Homo sapiens: one gene and its partner. The protein of the gene in region 2 interacts with the protein of the main gene of each other region in a pairwise test. Each region holds a gene or a part of one and is shown on either strand. Other genes may lie near its edges.

Region 1 (3,999 bases), on a different chromosome or scaffold from region 2:
ACAGACAATTAACAATATGCCAAGTAGATTAAAAGTTATTTTTTTCTTAAATTCAAAAATGGTATTGCTAACATGAAATGTGTTTTTGGATTGACTTTTCATTTGTGATATTAAATTTGGCAGTTTTTTTTAACCATTTGTGATTAGTGTTATGCATTTTTCATAATGGTAGGCCAATATTTTACTCTAATGAACAATCTAGTGTTTCTTTTTTTTAAGTTATAGCAACGATGTAAGCTTTGAAGCCTGGATTGTAACATAACCACATTTTACTTAACCAGTGGAGCTAGTTTGTCCCAATTTAACACTTTTATAATGCCAAGTTAAAATTGAACCCTTGGGCTTCCTAGTCATTATTATTGAAGCAGAAATACATTTTTGCTTCTTTTGTCATCTTTAATCCCCAACATGACAAAATAAAATATTTTGACTTGTTGACTTGCATACTCATCTTTGCCAACAAATGTAACTCGTGGCCTTCAATGCCTTCTTCCTCTTTCTTTTCACTTTTGTAGCCATTAACCAAACTTATTCCTTCAGTAAGAAACTTAATCCTTGGAACCTTGCTTTCTTTGGTTCTATTCCACAAAGGATCAAAAGCATAATTTTCCTCAAACACTACAATAATTATTTTCTTCCTTTACTTATGAACAGTTGGTAACTTTCTATGGCCGGTTATGTCACTTTTTATCCTAAGAGTTAATATTCTCCCTTCCTCTGACTCTTTCTCTTTTAGCAATCTTATTTTCTCCTGCTCTTCGGCAGTCTCTGCTACTTCCAAGCCATCTGGTTGTTATTGGCACATGGGATTTGCTTTTAACTTCTTTCCTGCCCATGCAGATGTCACCTTTGAATTACTGGGAGCCCACTGTTTCCTGAGTCAGTCCATTTCATCTTTGGATAAGTCCATTAAGGAGTTTTTCTCTTTGTTACATAAACCATATAAATCAACTATATAATTTTTACATTTATCTTTGTGTGTGTTACGCAAAGACCTAAGGAGGTCTTTTTCTTAGTTGTTTTGCATATGTGTGCTATGTCTACATATGTGGTGCTTTGTTTAACCTGCAGGCAAGGATCTTTGCATCAGGCACTTCTGCATTTCCATACCATGATCCATCCTCCTACAACTCCAGACCCACAACAGTATAAGCTCTAACTTTTGGCATAGTACATGTTTAATGGATGTTTGATGTGTAGGATACCTTCTAAATGCAGAACTATTTATATGTAAAAGTATATATATTTATACTTATGAAAGGATAATAAAATCTTTAGGAAATGATTCTGTGAATTTTAATTGTAAAGCTAGAATACAAGTCTGATCATGTGCATACTCACTGCCCCCACACAGTAAAATGCCTAAACATTTCCAATTGTTTAACTAAGAAAACATTACATGTTGTATATGTATCTATAATTGGTTAACAGAGAAGATGTTACATGTTATATATCTATCTAAACCTAAGTGGCTTGGTTTTCTCTATGTGTAATGTGCTATTATTTTCTATATCATAGATTTAGTTCTACCTGTGAAATTTCATATAATGCAGAAAAAATATTGATAGTTTTGCCTGTATTTTTCAATGTGAATATGAAAAAATACCTTGGCATTGTTAATCCAAAAATACATTTATAGTTTTCAAATAGTCTATCTAGCAGAACACTTATTAGTATCTCTAAATTATTAACATCGCTGAATATTCTTGCATTTTAAACTATTTCAAAAATTATTTCCATAACAATTTTAATTGAATCTCCTGTGATGCTATTTTGGTAATTGTAATCAGCAGTATCTTACAATTAGATTTTAATCAAAACCTTTAATGCTATAATGTGTAATCTGAGAGAAGACAGTTATATATCTATGTGGGCTTCTTCTCCTGACCTCCCTCTACTCCATCCAAGAGATGCTATAACCAATGTGAAAACAGATCATGGAGAGCAGAGGTTGCTTTCCATTTGTCCCAAGTAATGTGGAAAATATCCAGGGGTAGCAAGATAGGGTCATGATCAGTTAAAGTCTGGTATAAAGATAAACCTGGTGATGGACTTCTCACTAAGGCTCTTTACTTCCTGTGTGATCAATAAACACTGACTGACTTATAGGACAGTTGCTTAGGGTTAGGAGTGCACCTCCTGGTTATGCAGGAGATTGAAACTGGGGGCACAACTGGCTTGGGGTAAGGGGGGTGTGGCACAGGTGTGGGGGAAGAGTGGGGAGGGCTCGCCTACAGCCCACATTACTCTATTGTGCTGCTTTGCAGGTTCTGAATTATCAGCAGTGAATTATTCTTTTTCAGCTTTTATTATTACTAGATTTCTTTAAAGCCCACTTTTATGTCTGCCCATTAATCATTTATGTAATTTTAGAAGGCAATAATGCATGAGGCACAGAGCTAATTATGCATTCTATTATGTCGTTAGATATCTGGATGAAAGTCATGTTCCAAGACTCAATCCCTTCCCTAAAACTCATTTCCACAAGTGAAGATTTAATGATCTATTTATTTTAAAGGTTTGCCTTTGGGGACAAAGATTATCCTGGTTAGCTCCACTTGAAAGAATAGACTTTTATTTCATGGAATCTGTAAGCGTTTAGAAAAATCACTGTGGACTTTGAAAATATATTTAATACAAAACGTGTTGAAACCCATGCTTTGGCTATCCCTAGGTAGAAATGATCCTCTTTATACCTATGCAGATTATGAGAGCCATAATGTCCTCAGTTCTCATATTCCATTGAGTAAACACAGAACTAGCAAGCTGTGGAAGCAGTGTGTATGAGGGCAAATTGTAGCTTTGTTTTTTAATTCTACAGTCAGTATGTGTGAAAAAAAGGATGATTTTTAAATGATAACAATTCTTAAATGTGATAATTGCTAATGAATTTACTCTGATCAGTTTTGTTCTTTTACCATTCATAGCTAATTTATCACATTACATATAACCAGGAATGCAAACACTAGCCTCATGTATACCTCTCAGTTTGATCTCTTAGTTTTTCTTTTACTCTTCAGGTATGAAAAACCTCATTCTTCAGTAATTACATCCACAGCTCCTAGGTATATGTCATATATTTGATTATGAAGAGATATTTTCCTCTGCTTCTAACAGCAGAGTGCAGTATTTTGCAAGGAGAGTTGTCTTTGTGATTTAGCATATATTCATTTCTGTTCTACTGTGCTTTTTGTGTGCTTAGAATATAGTTCGATCAAAATGTGTGCAAAAACTTTTCCACTCTAAACTACATGAATATTTTCTAAAACTTAAGTCAAAAATAAGACCGCAACTGAGTTCTGGCTTTAGTGACAACGAAGGCAAAATGGATTTTAGGTGGGCAAGGACTGTCTCCTAGATGTCAGTGTCCATTCCGGAGCCACATTTTTGGCAGAAGATTTCCTTGTTCTGGGTCAGGAAGCCTTTACCCACCAAGGAGACAGAGCATTTCCCGCAGTTAAAGCATTCGCTATGCCACTGGCTGTCTTGAAAGCAGATAAACTTGGCACCTGTGAGACCTGTAAAGGAATTGGAGAAAAAGATTAATCTATCCTTTCAAGGAACAGATTGAGCATTCTAGCAGATGCTCCTCTAGGAACTGGAGATAGAGCTATGAGCAAAACAACGCAGAGGCAAATAACCCAAAAAAGAATGCTGCTTCCTGGCCCTGTGTCCATCTGGAACTATCCACTGTAGGAAAGTTACACCTATGCCACCCAACCAGATTCACAGCCAAATTCTGCCATAATCAACAGAAGAAGGCAGAATGCTAATATGCAAGTCAGGTATTTTTGGAAACAGATAAGGTTGTCTAAGCCAGATAAGACAATACAGTGTAGCATAGTGGAAAGAAGGTATAGGTTGTGAAGTCAGAGATATCTAAGTATGAATACATTTCCCCTTTTTCTCTATATGACTTTAAGTTTTCTTAGCTGCAAAATGAAGATAAAAGGAAATAAATGTATGCTTCCTAGTTTGATGTCCAATGTTGTAATGAGT
Region 2 (2,778 bases):
TGTCCGGTGGTAGGGGTAGCTCCAGGCGGTTTCTGCTCAGCAACCCCAGGGTCAGACAGACCCGGGTCTTGGCCCCAGGAGAACAGGGCTGAAAGGTAACCCTCCCAGTGCCACCCCTGGCAGGCCAGGCCTTGTTTGGCTCCCCAGGTGGGTGGCGGTGGCGCGTGGGGTGATGGCTCCCTGCGACTCCTGGTGATGCTGGAGGCCAGGCCTGATGCTCGGTGTGGGTTTACCCTACCGGAGTGACCCAGCACGACAATCATGGCTGTGTCCCCTGGGTCTTGAGGAGGAGAGGGGTTATTTTGGTCAGAGACAGGCAGTGAGGACGGCCTCAGGCAGAGGTGCTGAAGCACCACGTCTAGGATTGAGTGGCTTTGGTTTTACAGCTAAAGATAGGGCGATGCTTCTATCCCCGATAAGAGGAACGGGGAAAGGGCCAGAGAAGAGGGCTTGGCCCAGACACAGGGAGATGAGACAGGGAGGGAATCGTACCCATTGAGTGTTGTGGAAATCCTTTATTCCGTCCATGACAATGCAGAGCTTGCACGGCCACCTCCCACCCATCCCCTCCCCTGCACAAGGCCACCTGCTCCAATCTCCTTTCTTAACAGCTCTTGGCTGCTACAGACGCAGGCAGGGACCTTTGATTGTGTGGAAGCTTCTTGTTGAGAAATTTCTGAAGCTTGCTTAGCCACTAAGGAGTCAGTTGAAAATGTCTCTCTAAAGACTAAAGAAGACGTGAGACCCCTGCTTTGAGAACTCTGGAGTAAAGGAACCTGGCCTGGTATCAGGAGAGGTGGATGGAGTTCTGACTGCTGCTCACCAGCCGTGCAATCCTGAGCAAGTTATCCTAACACAGCCACGGATTCCGACTCAGCGGCCCGCTAGCATGGTAGCCCCAGGGCGGCCAGGGTTTGTCTGTTTGTCCTTTGCTGTAATTCCCAGCGCCGACAACAGTAACTGGTACATGGTGGTCTTGCTGAATAAGTGAACAAGTGCCTACCTAGCACATTGTACCAAGGATCATACGATATTAACGTATTTAACATTTTTTAACTAAAAAGTATTAGAAAAATGTTATTCAGTGCATCTGTGCCTTGTAAATGTGGCATAAAAGTGACACATAGATAAGTCTAAATATGTGTAATACAGAGCTTTCTTTTTCCCAGTCCCCACACAAAAATCTTAATTCCTCTACCATGTTCCCCACACAAGAAAAGGCAAAAAAAACAAAAAAAAAAAACAAAACAAAACCAAGTACTTCAATAAAAAGGTGGGACGCTTCAAGCGAGAGACAACTGAATTAACTTTATTCTCTTCTAACTGCAGATTCAAGGTATACAACTGAACATTGCTATTTTTCTTATGAGACTTATAAATAAAAATACAAAAAATGTTCACTACAAAAAAATCTACTGTTAGTAGGATGTAAAAAATATTCTCTTTGCTATAGAAGGCACAAACTTCACTTAGTGACACATGGAGAGAGAAAAAAACCTGCAGCAGTAAATTCATTTTTTCTTTTTTTTTCCTTTTTTTTTTTTTTTAAATCTTGTCAGAAACACTGAAATTACAAAGAAACGCGTCAATCTACACGAAACGAAGGCAGATGCGGAAAGCTGCAACCAGGACTGCACAACTTCGAGTGAAACTGCTTCGGAACTAGAACAGATAAGGAGCGGCAAGCACAACTCGGGGAAGTGGGCTGGGGAGGGGGCAGCAGGAGGCAGGAGAGAGGGAGAGAGAATGGAGTGGACAGAAATGAGACGGGGAGCCAGAGGGAGGAGGGGAGGGCGGGAGAGGGAGATGGAGAGGGCAAGGGTGAGAGGTGGGGAGGAGAGAAAGAGAGAAAGAGATTGATTTGTACAAAAAAGTAACCAGTAAAATTGAAGAAACAAAATTGGGCAACCTCCTAAAATTAGGCTAAGAGGAGGTGCTGAGGTAGACATTAACTAGAACATTGATGAATTAAAAACACTATTCTGTAATACAGAGCAATCCGACTGGCACTTGTGCTATCACGACATAAGACAAGCCACAAAAACAAACAAATAACAAAACGAAACATAATACCCAAACCAAAAGGCTTAGTTTTGCTTGGTCCAGCAGGGCAGCAGGGCCCTCAGTGCTATAATTTACATACATATATATATATATTTATCTTTATATATACGGGTTGGATGTCATGGTGCACCACCACGGCTTCTTAACCTTACGAAGATCATGCATAACACTATGTGAACAAATCCTATGATACACACCAGGAGGCTGGTACCCTGTCTGCGAAGTTGGATGCCAAGGGCCCGGGGAGGCCGCAGCTGCTGGCTAACCGGCCTGCAGGGCCTGCACCCCTCTTTCTCCCCACCCTTTTCCCCTGACCCAACCTCTCTGGTTTGTCCTGCACCCCTCTCCTGGCCATCTCTGCCTTTTTCCTCTCCCCATCTGTCCCACCGCGTAGGGTGAGTCTCGCCTTTCATCCTCCCACTGAAATATCCAGGTAAGTGCCACCATTACAGCCAAGCCGGCAGAGGCTCCAGGAAGGAGGAGGTATGATGGGAGGGGGAAAGATGACCACAGGATGGGCCTAGGAAAAGTGAATGAACAGAGTCTCATCTTCTGCTTTTCTGTCTCACATCCTGGTGCGCCCCCAGTTTTCACCCTAGCTCGGCTTGCCGGGAAGCAGGCCCAGAAACTACCCTGACCCTGCCAGCCGTCATGGACAGAGTCGAAAGGCTGCCCCACCTCTGCTCTCTCCCCTATAGGGAGGTAAGCTCAATG

Evidence for each region.
Region 1: the proteins of ZBTB16 (region 2) and FHL5 interact in binary tests that used the Homo sapiens proteins (3 or more experiments, as listed by UniProt).

What each region holds. Positions count from the first base shown.
Region 1 is NC_000006.12:96,615,128-96,619,126, reverse strand, and holds the end of FHL5 (four and a half LIM domains protein 5), read right to left. Parts: intron 3,519-3,999; coding exon 3,355-3,518; 3' UTR 501-3,354; downstream 1-500. UniProt on the Homo sapiens protein: May be involved in the regulation of spermatogenesis. Stimulates CREM transcriptional activity in a phosphorylation-independent manner.
Region 2 is NC_000011.10:114,254,488-114,257,265, reverse strand, and holds the end of ZBTB16 (zinc finger and BTB domain-containing protein 16), read right to left. Parts: 3' UTR 501-2,778; downstream 1-500. UniProt on the Homo sapiens protein: Acts as a transcriptional repressor. Transcriptional repression may be mediated through recruitment of histone deacetylases to target promoters. May play a role in myeloid maturation and in the development and/or maintenance of other differentiated tissues.